Regions from separate parts of the Homo sapiens genome. Here region 2 is linked to region 1. The links come from fine-mapping of genetic effects on gene expression. A gene starts in region 1. The other region holds a variant in brackets. All regions are shown on one strand. Distances are from middle to middle.

Region 1 (8,908 bases):
GAACAATTCAGAGCAAAATGAAATGACTAGTAAATGAAATAGCTTCGTTAAAATGTTTTCAAATATCTCCCTGTGGTGAACCAGAATTGCTTCCTGATATCATCGGTGGAGTAATAGTTTCATTAGGGTTTGGGGATGTTAACAGTGTTTGAAGAGCTGCCAAGGGAGGTGAGGGCAAATGGGGAAGAGCTGGTGTCACAGGAGATGAGGAGAGGGCTGTGCCCTTATTGACCCTTCCCCAGTCTGGCAGAAATCTGCTTTATCCTTCTACTGATTTAGCTTTGGCTCAGACACCATTTATTTGCCAAAGCATGCCCATATACCAGTTTTGGGGTTTGTTAGAAATAAAAGTCCAGGGGGTCACATGAACTTGAGAAATTCTGGGTTGAAAAAGTTAAAAAAGTTTTACTTGTTACAGAACTTTCAGAACATTTAATTTACAATGCACTGTGCTTTGCAAATCCAAGCTGGGCATTTGCTGGGAGTAATTGTTGACTGGGTTCTTCATCTTGAAATTCTCCTGAATTGGCTTGATGTTGCACTGTTTTGGTTTTTCTTCTTTTTCTGTAACCTCTCCTTTTTGGGACTTTTTTTCTTCTTACTCCTGAACAGGGGCATTTCTTGTGGTTTTATGGTTCATTATGTTCAGTCTCTAGAAGATTCACTGAAGTCCATGATTTTAGTTAGATACCTCCATGCTAGCAGCTCCACCCATGTCCCCCTCCAAGAGACATAGGTGAAGCCTGTCTCTTCCCAAAGAGACCTCCATTATATGTTGGATGCTTTCCCCAAAGTAAAAATGTCCCCTCTCCAAAACCATCTCTTCCTTTTTGACTTCTAATTTTCTTCCTCCTTTAAATTTTTCTTAAATTCTTTCAATTCTCTGAGTCAATCAGACTTGAAACCATATTTAATCACTAAACCCTGTGAATTCTTCTGCCTTTTTTGTCTTTCCTTTTTTTTTTTTTTTTTTCCTGGGACAACGTCTTGCTCTGTTGCTCAGGCTGGAATGCAGTGGTGCCATCTTGGCTCACTGCGACCTCTGCCTCCCAGGTTCAAGTGATTCTCCTACCTCAGCCTCCCAAGTAGCTGGAATTACAGTTGTCCACCATGTTGTCCAGGGGTTGTCACCATGTTGGCCAGGCTGGTCTTGAAATCCTGACCTCTCCAGTGATTCACCTGCCTCGGCCTCCCAAAGTGCTGGGATTACAGGTGTGAGCCATCGTGCCCAGCCCCTTCTTTTTTTGTTGTTTCTGTTTTTGTTTTTGTTTTTGAAACAAGGCATTGCTCTGTCACCCAGGCTGGAGTGCAGTGACCTGCTCATAACTCACTGCAGCCTCAACCTTCTGGGCCACCTCAGCTTTCTGAGTAGTTGAGACTACAGGCATGTGCCATCATGCCCAGCTAATTTTTGTGTTTTTTGTAGAGACAGCTGTGTCAATCCCTTTTTAAATGAGGCCTTGATCCCCTTGTCTAAACTACTGAAATAAATTCCAAGTCACGCTTCCTGCTTCCTTTCCTTACCTATTCTATGTAGGCTGCACACAGCTACTGTTTCAATCAATCTAAAACACTGCTTTGATTCTTTCTTAAAAACTTCCAGTGGGTGAATTCTCAGTGACTCATTGTGTGAATAAAGTCCATACAACTTATGCTAGCAGTAAAACTTCCCACAGTGTTGCTCCCACCTGCATTTAAAGCCTTTGTGCTAATGGTTCCTCCATTAAAATTGCAGACAGAAGAAATGCTCTTGTGATGTTACAGATATGAAGGTAGGAGTGTGCAAGGCAATTGGGGAAAGGAAGTTTCTGTAACCCTTTCAGAATTGAATGATCTATGGGATACCTGAGCTGAACAATTCAAGTTCTAAATTACTATAAATATATCCAAATCATCCTCTAGATTAAGGATATTCTGTAAATGGGCTAATACGGTCCTTTATAGCATGTAAAGAACAAAAATAAGGAAGGATATAGCTTAAGGCTTCTACCTGTCAAAGCTGATAGCCTATCATATTACACATTTTAGAAAATATTGATCAAATTCAGGATGAAAAAATTAATACATGCATGTATATATAAATAAAAAGCTACTGTAGCAGATGCTGTTGGTACCCTACCCATATTCCTTCATCGCTCGCCTCTAAATGACAAAGGTAAACACCTGCAAATATTGCAAATGCTACAATTCCCTGCTTGAAAACCTTTACTTATGGCTGCAGGCGTGTGCTTAGCTTGCCCCCAGGGCAAGCTGGTAGTGCCAGAGAGCCAATGGGTTCAGAAGCTACCTTCATCATCAGCGATGGGTTTCCTTACCCCTTAATTGGACTAACTCTTTTTTTTTTTTTTTTTTTGGGGGACAGGCTCTCGCTCTGTCACCCAGGCTGCTCTTCAGCAGTGCAGTCTCTTCAGTGGTGCAATCTCACTTCACTGCTGCCTCTGCCTCCTGGGTTCCGGTGATTCTCGTGCCTCAGCCTCCTGAGTAGTTGGGATTACAGGCATGAACCACCATAACTGGCTTTTTTTTTTTTTTGTATTTTTAGTAGAGATGGGGCTTCACCATCATGGCTAGGCTGGTCTTGAACTCCTGACCTCAAGTGATCCACCCACCTCAGCCTCCCAAAGTGCTGGGATCACAGGTGTGAACCACCACACCTGGCTGGACTAACTCTTAATTGCAGAGTTCGTGTGCAATGTCTTTCAGAGTTCCTCATTAGAACTGAACTCAAATTGCCCACTGGAGTCTCTTGCTTGATAAAACACCCTTTATTGACTTTCTTTTCTCCCCAATCTCACTTTCCCACTTCCAGTGGTGCTTTCTAAGATTATCTCTTAAAACAAAAACAAAAACAAACTACTTGCAATTGAATTCTTGTTTCTGAATCTACTTCTGGGGGAACCCAAACTAAGAGAGCCGCTGAAATGGAATTGTATATTGAGAATTTAAGATGAGTCTATGGCATCTGGAATTTATGCAGTTGGAGCTGAATAAAAAATATTTCTTTCAGGAGTCAGGATCTTTGTCTCTGTGACAAAATTTCTTCCACACAAATCACTAAAGCTTTGAACAAAAGATGCGGAAGCTTTGTCTCTGGAAACCACCATTAATTTATGAGGGGAGGATAGGGGTTGTCTTTATTATTCCAGTGCTTTGGATATAGGAAGAAAAAGTCATTAAAGCTAGAAAATCTTCACTAATGGAATGTTTACTTATAAAATTATTCTTAACTCAAATTTTCTTTCCCGCTTAACATTTATTCTACCTCACTCATAATGCACTAGCAGCTAGTGTTAGAATATTTGGTCCAACAATACAAATAAAACTGTAGCTCAATTTTTTTTTTTTTTTTTTTTTTGAGATGGAATCTCACTCTGTCTCCCAGGCTGGAGTGCAGTGGTGCGATCTCAGCTCACTGCAACCTCCGCCTCCTGGGTTCAAGTGATTCTTCTCTCTCAGCCTCCTGAGTAGCTGGGACTACAAGTGCATGCTACCATGCCTGGCTAATTTTTTTGTGTTTTTAGTAGAGACGGGGTTTCACTGTATTGTCCAGGCTGGTCTCGAACTCCTGACCTCTTGGTCCGCTCGCCTTGGCCTCCCAAAGTGCTGGGATTACAGGCATGAGCCACCGCGCCTGGCCAACTGTAGCTCAGTTTCAATAGGAAATCTAAAATCTTGCAAAATAAGCAGCATTTTATTAAATGTATGAAGGTGATGTTGGGGACTTGCTAGAATCAATGCAAAGCTATGGGAAAATAAAGACCTGGTAGAATAAGACAAGATAAAAAGCAAAGGAGAGAAAATGGATGTGGATAATGACCCTGAGAAGAACTTTCCAACACAGTGATCTGATTATCAAAGGATTAAGTGAAGTTCTTGAGAAAATTAGTGATGTCCTCAAATATGTTTACAAAAATTGATATTCTTTCTGATTATTCTGTGAAAGTTAAGCATGAAGGGATGACTATTGGGTTGTATTAGGCTGTACTTTGGGGAAAAATTCTACTCCAGAACATTCTATTTAGATTTTGAGTGACAGAACTGCATTTAAATATTTTCTTTCATAAAATATTTAATCTCAAAGTCTGGCATATAACACCTTTTAAGAGAATCATGAAAACATCCACTTAGTTTAGTAGATTGAAACAAGAAGGAGGCTCATCCCTTGCCTTACAGAGTCTCCTTTGGTTGAAAATCACTTAAACATTGAACTGAGAACATTTGCTGTGTTTCCTGATTTATAGATATGTTTCTAAGAAACATATCTATAACTTCCAAACAGTCCCAGCTGGCTGTAGCTAAGGCTGTGTAATTGATAAGATGCATCTGGTTTCAAGGCACAGATTAAGTACAAGGTCAGGCTCTTGCTGTCGTTGGAGAATCCGGTTGGGGTAGGAGCTAAATCTCAGGACCACTTGCTCTATATATGAGTGCCAAGATAATCTAGAGCAGGGAGAGGCAGAGAGGCAGGCAGCCTGCTGGGCTCTTCCTGCTGTTGAAAACTTACCCGGCCCTTACAGAGGAAATCTTCCTCCTCTCTTCTGCCCTGAATGTTTTCCCAAACATGAAGGTAAGACAATAAATTCATTACTTTTGTAAATGAAGCTATCTTTTCAAATGAACGGGGGTAATATAAATGTAATTTAAACGAAGAGGTGTAATACCTAACTGAAAGACATCAAATAAATAGAAGGCCAGAGGAAAATACAGAAGAAAAAGACCTGGGGGTGATGTTTAGAAATCCTTATTTAAACATATTTAACAGTTCAGCCAAAGTGAATTCCTTTTTCTTATCTTGTGGTGAAATTATAGGTCCAGAGGTCTGGGAATCAGGAATTGGAGACAATGTTTATGAAAGTCCCGATAAAGTCATAAAGAAATACAATAGTACTATTGTTATTTCTTGGGAAAAACTTTCCTCTGGTGTATTTTTTTTTTTTTTTTTTGCTTGTTTGGATTAGGAGCCATGCAGTAGGGTCCTGCGATTTATCTAAGAGCTAATAGAAAAGCAAATTTGCAGGCTTGGAACTTGAGAATTTGAAATCCTGGATGAAAGAGTCAGCATTGTGAGAATAGAAGATATGAGTAGATGGAATAAAACTAAAGGTCTACCAAGTATACATGTTGGCCCAATGCAAAAAGGCCAAATATTAAAAAACAAAACAAAACACAACCAAAAAGCTATTCAACAAAAGATAAGACCAAAGATAGAAATCGCTATCATAGACTAAATCTCTGGAATGCAAAAATAAGTTGAGATTGCTATTCAAATTTTATTATTGTAAATTTTGGTATTTAAACTTTAAAAATGTTGCATTGTAAGACTGTAGGAATAATTTCACAGATCTGTCAGTGGCTAGATTGCTTCCATAGTCACTGTATTGTCCATTGGGGCACCGAATCCAAGCTCGCTCATTATTGGGGTTAGAGGAGGAGCAAGATATGGATCTTGATTAAGCCATGCCTTCTGTGAAATTAAATAATTAAAATTAAACACAAATAACAAAGTTAATTTGTTTAAAGTTATGATGGGCAGTCATAAAAAAGAATGAAATCATGTCCTTTGCAGCAACATGGAGGCAGATAGAGGTCATTATCCTAAGAAAATTAACGCAGGAACAGACAATCAAATACCCCATGTTCTTAATTTTTAAGTGGGAGCTAAATATTGGGTACTCATGGGCATAAAGATGGCAACACTAGACACTGCACTCCAGCCTGGGCAATAAGGTGAGACTCTCTCTCAAAAAAAAAAAAAACAAAAAAAAAACAAGAAAAGAAAATGATGCTCTTCTGAAAGTTATCTAGCCAAAATGTTTTTTCCTAATATTTGTGTTAACTATTAATCTTTTACTTTATTTTACAATAAGAAATCTTAATAATTGCTTTGTGCTTAAAAACATGTTTACAATCATTATTATAATATTTTACTGCTGTAATAATAAATATACTTCTATCCTTTAATTAGTTGACAAAATATCAACAAATAAAGCAATTAATTTTTTAAAAATTTTACATATAGGGGCTTTCCAGCAAAAATTGGGAAGCCTGATAGACAAGTTCTAAAACAACTGTAACACTAAAGCAATTATTTCACTCCAAGTCGCATGTAGAGTTCTTACCTGTATTTGAAAGTGGACATTCATATTTTTACAGTAAACCTGAAGGACATGCTTTGGTGATATGTGACAAAGAAGGGACACTTGTGAAAGCCTTGGGCTATCAAGAAGCTAGAAATGGTTTCTATGTCAGACTTTTTAAGAGGAAGCAATGTTTTGGCCCCACAGCCCCCACGTGAACTAAATTCAGAGAGACAGTCACAGGATTCCCTTTGGTTCTCTCTGTGTTCTTGGATAGGAAATAACTTGGATCTGAGGTGTTGGAGAAGGATGTCAGGGACAAGGGACTTCCCTCGGAGCTGGCTGTGGCCCAGCCATTTGTTCCGTCCCTCCAGGAGAGAGCTGAGCTTGGGGCCTGTGAATCTAGGGAATGGTCGTCACAGTGCCCAAGCACAGTGATGGTCAAGCACAGTAATGTCTCAAATCAGGATTGTAGCTGGGACATACTGGAAGAAGGAGGTAGAGCTAATGCTCATTCATTGATGATAAAGAGGAGAAGATAATTCAGGGGAATGTAGTTCCAGCTTAGCTACATTGACACAGAACAAAAATACCACACACTTTTTCTTTCTTTCTTTTTTTTTTTTTTTTGAGACAAAGTCTCACTCTGTTGCCCAGGCTGGAGTGCAGAGGTACGATCTCTGCTCACTCCAACTTCCGCCTCCTGGGTTCAAGCGATTCTTCTGCCTCAGCCTCCTGAGTAGCTGGGGCTACAGGCGTGCGCCACCATGCCTTGCTAATTTTTGTATTTTTTTTTTTTTTTTAGTAAAGATGGGGTTTCACCATATTGGCCAGGCTGGTCTTGAACTCCTGACCTCATGATCCACCTGCCTTGGCCTCCCAAAGTGCTGGGATTACAGGCATGAACCACCACGCCCGGCCCCACATACTTCTTCAACCAAGCAATTCTTTTATAGAGTCAGTTCAGATGTATGTCTATCACTGTCATTCACATGATTTATTTGTGTTTGTTCTATCTCTCTTGTTCATTTATAAGGTATTTTTTCCAAAGGTAATTATCCTAAGGCTAGCCAAATTTCAAGAAATGCTTTTGGTTAGTAGATTCACTTTGTATAACATGAACAGAACTGGTCTTGTAATAAGCAGACCTTGATGGGTTATAATGAGTATGTATATGAAGAAGGTGATGACAAAGGCATCCATGATGATAAAAAGTATATTTCCTAAAATTTCATTGAAATTCTTTATTTTAAAAAATGCTTTTAAATTTGAGACAAGATCTTGCTCTGTTGCCCTGGCTGGAGTGTAGTGGTACAATTATGGCTCACTGCAGCTGCTACATCCTGGGCTCAAGTGATCCTCCCACCTTAGTCTTCTGAGTAGCTGGGACTACAGGTGCCCGCCACCATGCCTGGCTAATTTTTGTATTTTTTGTTGCAACAGGCTGGCCTCAAATTCCTGGGCTCAAGTGATCCTACCACTTTGTCCTCCCCAAATGCCAGGATTACAGGCATGAGCCACCAAACCTGGCTGAAATTATTTTAAAACACCTGTGACAGAATGTTAGAAATAATTATTTTCATTATCCACATTTTGGCTGAGAGTCAAAGGCCAAGAACAAGTACTCAAGATTTTTTGAAATTTTATGGTTTTTTTTGGAAATTTTATTCATTTAGTTATTTTATTTGTATACATTTAAGGGGTACAAGTGCAATTTTGTTACATGGATATATTGGGTAGTGTTGAAGTCTGGGCTTTCAGTGTATCTATCTTCCAAATAATGTACATTGTACCCATTAAGTAATTTCTCATCACTCTTCCCCTTTCTATCCCCAACTCTTCTGAGTCTCCAATGTCTATTATTCCATACTTTTTGTCCATGTGTACACATTATTTAGCTCCTACTTGTAAGTGAGAATATGAGGTACTTGATTTTATGTTTCTAAGTTGTTTCACTTAATATAATGGCCTCTAGTTCCATCCATGCTGCTGCAAAAGACATGGTTTCATTCTTTTTTAAAAAATTGAACAGTATTTCATTGTGTATATACTGCATTTTCTTTATCCAATCATCTGTTGTTGGACACTTAGGTTGCTTCTATATCTTTGCTATTGTGAATAGTGTTGAGATAAACATACGAGTACGGGTATCTTTCTGATATAATGATTTCTTTTCCTTTGGGTAGATACCCAGTAGTGGGATTGATGGATCCGATGGTAGTTCAATTTTTAGTTCTTTGAGAAATCTCCATACTGTTTTTTATGGAAGTTGTACTAATTTACATTCCCACCAATAGTATATATTGGTGGGAATATATACTATTCCCTATTCTCACTTATCTCTGCATTCCTACCAACAACTGTTATTTTTTGACATTTTTAAAGAGAGATGGTGTCTTGCTCTGTTATCCAGGCTGGAGAGTAATGGTGCAATCATAGCTCACTGCACCTTTGAATTCCTGGGCTCAAGTGATCCTCCTGCTTCAGCCTCCTGAGTAGCTGGCACTATCTGGGCATGTGCCACCATGTGCAAATATATATATATGTATATTTTGTATATTTATATATTTTAAGATGGAGTCTTGCTCTGTCACCCAGGCTGGAGTGCAGTGGCATGATCTCGGCTCACTGTAATCTCCACCTCCTGGGTTCAAGCGATTCTCCTGCCTCAGCCTCCCAAGTAGCTGAGACTACAGGTGCGTGCCAACATGCCTGGTTAATTTTTTGTATTTTTAGTAGAGATGGGGTTTTACCGTGTTAGTCAGGATGGTCTTGATCTCCTGACCTCATGATTTGCCCGCCTCAGCCTCCCAAAGTGTTGGGATTACAGG
Region 2 (8,000 bases), 62 kb after region 1:
CAGGCTGGATTGCAATGGAGTGATCTTGGCTCCAATCTTCACACCATATTTTGGCAGTTCATGTGCATACACTGCACAGACTATCACGTTCCCTTCTACACAGGTCTAAGCAATCTGACAAATGATAACTCTGTTTGTTACATAAAATATCATCCTGTATTTGGGTGTGCTGTATTTATTTTTATCCTGTATCACCAAGCATTTCCGAACATAGTGATCAGTTTTACCCTCTTGTCATCTTCTAAATTTCACTTAGTATCTTTTAAAGTAGGCCTTATTATTAACAACTTTAACAAACCCCATCCTGTGGGACAGAGACCTGCGTTTGTGGCTTGACAGAGACCTGCAGGCCCAGTAGTGCTGGGGTGGGAAAAGGGTATTATTAATTGTTTTTTGCTTTTGGTTTTCTCCAGCAACTTTACTCTGATGTCTAGGTATAATTTTCTTTATATTTTTCTGGGCTTTTATTGAACCTGTGCTTTAAGTCTTTTGTCAGTTTTAGACCATTTCTTGACCATTATGTCCTAAAACATTGCTTCTGTCCCATTCTTCCTCACTTGTCCTTATGGGACACAAATTATACATTTTTTGGACCATTATATTTTTTAACATCATTTTTTTGTTTGTTTTCCATCTTTTCCCCCTCTGTTTCATTCTAAATATTTTCTTTTTCTTTTTCTTTTTTTTATTTGAGATGGTTTGTTTTCCAGGCTGGAGTGCAGTGGTGCGATCTCGGCTCACTGCAACCTCCGCTTCCCAGGTTCAAACAATTCTCCTGGCTCAGCCTCCTGAGTAGCTGGAATTACATGCATGCAGCACTGCATCTGGCTAATTTTTGTATTTTTAGTAAAGATGAGGTTTTGCCATGTTGGCCAGGCTGGTCTTGAATTCCTGACCTCAAGTAATCTGCCTGTCTGGGCCTCCCAAAGTGCTGGGACTACAGGCATGAGCCACCGCACCTGGCCTCATTCTAAATATTTTCAACTGACCTATCTTCCAATTTATTAATTCTCTGTATATTTCTGTATAATCTCCTTTTAAGAACTCTATTATAGAGTTTTAAATTTTATCAATTTTATTTTTCAACTTAAAACAATTATATATATTTTATATATATATATATATATATATATATATATATTTTTTTTTTTTTTTTTTTTTTTTTTTTTGAGACAGATTTTACTCCTGTCACCCATGCTGAAGTGCAGTGGTGCAATCTTGGCTCACTGTAATCTCTGCCTCCTGGGCTCAAGCAATTCTCCTGCCTCAGCCTCCTGAGTAGCTGGGATTATAGACGCTTGCCACAGTGCCCAGCTAATTTTGTACTTTTTAGTAGAGACGGGGTTTCACCATGTTGCCGTGGCTGTTCTCAAACTCCTGAGCTCAAGTGATCTGCCTGCTTCAGTCTCCCAAAGTGCTGGGATTATAGGTGTGAGCCATCGTGCCTGGCTATTTTTCAATTTTAGAGGTTTCATTTGTCTACTTTTTTACTGCATAGTGAATTTTTAAATTAATAACTTCATTTTTAGAGCAGTTTTAGCTTACAAAAAACTGACTAGAAAGTACAGAGAGCGCCCATCTACTTCCTTACTTCCCGCCCAGTTTCCCTATTAGGTATTAACATCTTCCATTAATGTGGTATATTTATTATAATGAATGAGCCTATATTCTTACATTATTATATTTAAAAATATTAAAATTTTTCACTTAAAATATAGTTTTTAAGCGATGTTTTGATATGTGTAAACAGTGTGTAATAAGCAAATCAGAGTAAATAACATCAATTACTTCAAACATTTATGTTTACTGTTTTATATTTTCTAATTCTCTGTTGTAATTCTCCATCTTGTCATTTAAAAAAATATATTAATTTCAGTTGTTTCAGGGCCTGTATCTGTTAATTTCATTCTTTAGGTAAGTCTGTTACTGTAAGTCTGTTTCTATTGTTTTTTTTGGTTGGAATTTGGTCAATTCTTGTCTTTTTGAATGTTAAATTAGTTTTAATTGAATGTCAGACTTTACGTATGAAAATTTAAAAATTGGATGATGCTATCTTCCTCTAGAGAAGACTAACTTTTGTTTATGGCAACCAGTGAGGCTGGCTTATGTCTGGGTTATCTCTATTCCAAGGATGTGGCCATTAAGGGATTCCAACTGAAGGTATGGGCTTTCTACCTGGCCCCTTCTTTTTGACAGGACTGGACTCTAGTTTTTAAAACCCTGGTCCTGTGAGACTGCTAAAAGCTGTTTATCTTTTTAGCCTCTGAGCTATGGTTTTCTCTTCAGTTTAGCAGCCTTTCAGCATATTTTCTTTTTTTTTTTAATTTACAAATACCTCAAGGAAAAATGTGTTACCAAATGTAAATGTAATCACCACATTAGACTTCCCTTCTCTCTGAAATCTTGGACTTTCAAACTTGCACTGCCTTGTTAGTGCTCTGATTCTTTCAGAAATAGTTTTCCTTTTAATTTTGTACAGTCTTTCTATTTTTTTTGTCTTGGTAGGAGATTTAATGTGAAAACAGCAAACGCATTAGAAACAAGCAGATTCAATACTAGATTATGAAGTTTTGGAAGGCATAAGATGTGACTTGTACTTTGCTGTGTCCCAAGCAGTGCACAACATATTTGGCAAAATATAGGCATTCAAAAAGTGCTGTGGATTTTTGTATATATTCATGGAGTATTAGCTCAATTTTGCTACACTGATATATCTCATTGTGATGAAGTCAAAGCTTTCAGTGCATCCATCAAATGCTGTTTTTGAATGAATAAATGAATGAATGGGTTTTCTGATGACAGTGCTGTAAAGATACAGCAATACTTTGTAGAATATTGTCCAAAGTCCATTAGGGATATTAGCAAGATTTTTTTTTTAATCATGAATTCTGACTTGCTGTTTATACTATGTGTGTTTTTTCTTTTTCTCTGTTCTTTTTTGAAGTAAGCTATTTGAGCTAATGAATGTAATTGAGTAAGAAAGAATACAGATGAAAAGTCAGGGAACACTGAACACTTTTATGTCTGCAAGTTTAAAGGTGGTGCTTTAGCTGGGTGTGGTGGCATGTGCCTGTGATCCCACCTACTCAGGAGGTTGAGTCAGGAGGATTGCTTGAGCCTAGGAGTTTTTAATTTTTTTTTTAATTTTACTTTAAGTTCTGGGATACATGTGTTGAATGTGCAGGTTTGTTACATAGGTATATATGTGCTATGGTAGTTTGCTGCATCTATCAACCCATCATCTAGGTTTTAAGCCTCGCATGCATTAGGTATTTTTCCTAATGCTTTCCCTCCCCTTGCCCCCCATCCCCTGACAGGCCACAGTGTGTGATGTTCCACTCCCTGTGCCCATGTGTTCTCATTGTTCAACTCCCACTTATGAGTGAGAACATGCATTTTCTGTTCCTGTGTTAGTTTGCTGAGGATGATGGTTTCCAGCTTCATCCATGTCTCTGCAAAGGACATTAACCCGTTATAGTATTCCATGGTGTATATGTGCCATATTTTCTTTATCCAGTCTATCATTGATGGGCATTTGGGTTGGTTCCAAGTCTTTGCTATTGTAAGTAGTGCTGCAATAAACATACGTGTGCATGTGTCTTTACAGTAGAATGATTTATAACCCTTTGGGTATATACCCAGTAACGGGATTGCTGGGTCAAATGGTATTTCTGGTTCTAGATCCTTGAGGAATTGCCATACCGTCTTCCACAATGATTGAACTAGTTTACACTCCTACCAATAGTGTAAAAGCGTTCCTATTTCTCCACATCCCCACCAGCATCTGTTCTTTCCAGACTTTTTAATGATCACCATTCTAACTGGCGTGAGATGGTATCTCATTGTGGTTTTGATTTGCATTTCTCTGGTGACCAGTGATGATGAGCATTTTTTCATATGTTTGTTGGCTGCATAAATGTCTTCTTTTGAGAAATGTCTGTTCATATCCTTTGCCCACTTTTTGATGGGGTTGCTTGTTTTTCTGTTGTAAATTTGTTTAAGTTCCCTGTAGATTCTGGATATTAGCCCTTTGTCAGATAGATAGATTACAAACATTGTCTCCCATTCTGTAGGTTGCCTGTTTACTCTGATGATAGTTTCTTTTGCTGAGCAGAAGCTCTTTAGTTTAATTAGATCCCATTTGTCAATTTTGGTTTTTGTTGCAATTGTTTTTGGTGTTTTAGTCATGAAGTCTTTGCCCATGCTTATGTCCTGAATGGTATTGCATAGGTTTTCTTCTAGGGTTTTTATGGTTTTAGGTTTTACATTTAAGTCTTTAATCCATCTTGAGTTAATTTTTGTATAAGGTATAAGGAAGGGGTCCAGTTTCTGTTTTCTGCATATGGCTTGCCGGTTTTCCCATCACCATTTATTAAACAGGAAATCCTTTCCCCATTGCTTTTCTGAGCCCAGGAATTTGAGGCTGTAGTATACACTGATTAGACCTATGAATAATCACTGCTCTCCAGCCTGGGCAACAAGACAGACCCTGTCCCTAAAAAATAAAAATAAATAAATAAATAAAAGTGGTGTTTTAATAATTTCAGACGGCAAAATATCCAACTGGATGAAAGTTAATGAAACTCTCCTGGTGGAACATCACTAGAGCACATAAATAAGTGACAGCTGTGAAAAGTTTGGTTTCAAC[A/G]GTAGGCTGGGCATTAGGACTCTATTGGGGTTGTTCATTTTAAGTTGTCACATTGTTTTGAGGGGAGGGGTGGGAGAGGGGGAGCTGTTTTGGTTTTTAGATATTCATGGGTCAATTACGTGCCAGGCTCTGTGTGACATGTCTTTCAGTCCACCCTAACAGTGAACTTACGTCTTCCTCCTTGTCCTCTAATATGAAAAAGCAGAACAAGTGTGTCTGCATCACATAAGACTTTTTTAAAAAGATGGTTTAGGAGAGCAACGACCCTTATATTTTGCTCTCTTTTATCTTTAGAAATTGCCTGTGTTCTACCTGTACTGATGGATGGCATACAGAGTCACCCCCAAAAACCTTTCTACACAGTTGGTGAGAAGGTGACTGTTTCCTGTTCAGGTGGCATGTCCTTAGAAGGTCCTTCAGCATTTCTCTGTGGCTCCAGCCTTAAGTGGAGTCCTGAGATGAAGAATGCCCGCTGTGTACAAAAAGGTGAGTGGCTTCCATGTCTATCCAAGGACACTTGTACCCAGGCAAGTGAGAGTCCTTGTGGCGACCTTCATGGTACTGTATCACCATAGCTGTGAGTCATTCCCTCCATTCTTGCTCCTTAAGATAGGGTCAGTTTGTAGACTGAGTAACAGATTTTCTTCACATGGCACAGAAAGACTCATGAAAGCAAGGAAAGGCAAGGATAGCCTGGTGATTCTGAAACTTTTAACTTAAATCATCCTTGTGAAAGATTAGCTTTATATCTGTTATGGTGCCAAGACAATAAAGGATTTTTAAAATCTGTTTTTTGTTTGTTTGTTTGTTTCCTCTAGATTTTTTTCCCCTGCATTTTTCATAAGTACAGAGTTGAGATCATAATTTATTTAAAGTTCTGTATGTTTCATTTTTGGGCTTTCAAAGAGTTTATCAGTATTTCTGAAATTGAAAATTTAGAAAGCATTTTCATTTAACACTTTAAAGCAGACATTATTGAAGGAAAAGTGTTGTGATTCATGAAATTGTTCTTAATGTGGAAACCCAAAAATCCAGTATTTTAACACCAAGAAAATTAAAATGGTCTTTTAAGAACCTAAGGTAGAAAGGATTTAGAAAGCCAAATTATTTCTTTTTAGAGGTAATTTTAGATGAGATAGATTTGTTTGACAATAACCCCTTATTTATTCTTTGTTTACATTTTTTAAATAAATGGAAAATATTGTATTTGTAACAAAAATGAGAATGAAGAAAAACTCACTTGCATACTATTTTATGTGATATTATCTCTCTAGTATGTGATTTTTAATTAAACGCTGAAATTTATTTTTAATAGTGAGGATGAAGTACTAGATTTCACAGGTGATGGTGTGAGGTGAATTAGATGTTTCTAACTAAGTTCTCCATGCGACAGGGTATGGAGCACTCAGATACTGATGGTAGATATGGGCTGTGATGTGAAGTGGATGAGAGGCAGAACAATAGGCAAGACACACGTCCTTGGAGTGCCCTCCCTGCCTGTCCTGATGTGCTGTTAAGTTATCAAAGCTCCATCTCAGAGGACAGTTGTTTTGTGTTCTGTAAACACTGAAGTATAAACATGAGTTTACTTGGAATATTTAAAGTCATGGACCAGTACTTACAATTCTAAAAATGAAAGAGAACAATATACAGTTGATGAGGTTGCACTTTTGGTTCAAATGAGATTGTAGACTAGTCTGTCTAAAATGCTACTTCAGCTATTTTACAGCACAGTTTGGTATGAAGTTTCATTTACCCAGTAGAAAATTCTATTAAAGTGGGTTTTAATTAAGGATGTTTTTCAGATCTGTGTGTTTTTCTGAAGATGTGAATAACAGTAACTACTTCTAAGCCTATAACAAACAAAAAAATCCAAGACTTACCAGCTTCCAAAGTTGATGTTTTAAAATGTTGGCTGTTCTAGTATTTAGTCTTTTTTTTTATTATAATAAAGCATACATAACATAACATTTACCATTTTATCCATTTTTAAATGTATGTTCAGTGGCATTAAGTAATTCCCATTGTTGTGCAACCATCACCACATTTTTTTTCATCTTTCCAAACTGAAGCTCTATATCCATTAAACATTAATTCCTCACTTTCCCCTACTGTCCCCGTAGTTAGTCTTGATGGGAATAAATTTGCTTTTAAAATAGCAAAAGCACATACTTTCGGTGGGCCTTAAGAGTGTGTTTACTTGGTTAACCAAGCTGTAAAGGCAACAAAGCTATGTTCTTCTTAAATGCAAAAATTCTTTGGGCTAGGTAATTCTATCGTTTTTTTTTTTTTCCACAAAGACATTATAATACATTTTTTTTTTTTGAGATGCAGTCTCGTTCTGTCACCCAGGCTGGAGTGCAGCGGCACAATCTCAGCTCACTGCAAGTTCTGCCTCCCGGGTTCACACCATTCTCCTGCCTCAGCCTCCTGAGTAGCTGGGACTACAGGTGCTCGCCACCATGCCCGGCTAATTTTTTTTTGTATTTTTAGCAGAGACGGGGTTTCACCATGTTAGTCAGGATGGTCCCGATCTCCTGACCTCATGATCCGCCCGCCTCGGCCTCCCAAAGTACTGGGATTACAGGCGTGAGCCACTGCGCCCGGCTTGACATTATAATAGTTTAAGCAAACTTTTAAAATCTAAAATTTCAGGATTTGTCCTAAAGTAAATTTTTAACCACAGTGCAGAACTAATTTACATGGCTTGATCATTGACCTTAAGTTTTGGTACATCTAGATTAAGGCTTCTCAACCTCAACGCTATTGGAATTTTAGGTCTAATAATTCTTTGCTATGGGAGCCTCTTCTGTGCATTGCAGGGTGCTTAGCAGCATCCCTGGTCTCTACCCAACAGTAGCATCCTCCTATGTCAATAACATTCTGCAGTTGTAAAAACCAAAGATGTCCCTAGTGATTTCCAGATGTCCCCTGGGGGACAAAACTGCCCCTGGTTGAGAAGCACTGATGTAGATAATACCATTTTTAAAAAATTTCATTTTGGAATAATTTTAGATTTCAGCAAAGTCACAGATATAATTTCTACACACCCTTCACCCATCTTCCTTAATATTAACATCTTACATAACACAACTTGGTTAAAACTAAAAAATTAATATTAGTACAATGCTATTGACTAAACTATACACTTTATTCAAATACCTCATGTTTTACCACTAATGTCTCTTTTATGTTCTAGGGTCCAGTTCAGGGTACTACGTTGCATTTAGGATAATACCATTTTAAAGAGAAGTGTGCTTTTTTTTTTTTTTTGAGACAAGGTCTCGCTTGTCCAGGCTGGCTGGAGTGCAACGGCGCAATCTTGGTTCACTGCAACCTCCACCACCCGGGC

Evidence for each region. PIP is the estimated chance that this variant, and not a neighbour inherited with it, causes the effect.
Region 2: its variant is fine-mapped to the expression of C7 in lung (TOPMed, PIP above 0.99). The same link has a PIP of 0.9 or more in adrenal gland, atrial appendage, esophagus mucosa, esophagus muscle, gastroesophageal junction and left ventricle.

What each region holds. Positions count from the first base shown.
Region 1 is chr5:40,905,050-40,913,957 of GRCh38, forward strand. C7 (complement C7) reads left to right here and starts at 4,448. Exons shown (of 18, transcript NM_000587.4): 1 at 4,448-4,567. The coding sequence starts at 4,562. It also overlaps the pseudogene RNU7-161P.
Region 2 is chr5:40,967,461-40,975,460 of GRCh38, forward strand. It overlaps C7 (complement C7), which reads left to right. Exons shown (of 18, transcript NM_000587.4): 15 at 4,943-5,134. Among named protein-coding and RNA genes, the nearest start is that of C7, 62 kb to the left of the region's middle. The variant A/G (reference allele first, on the strand shown) is at 4,649.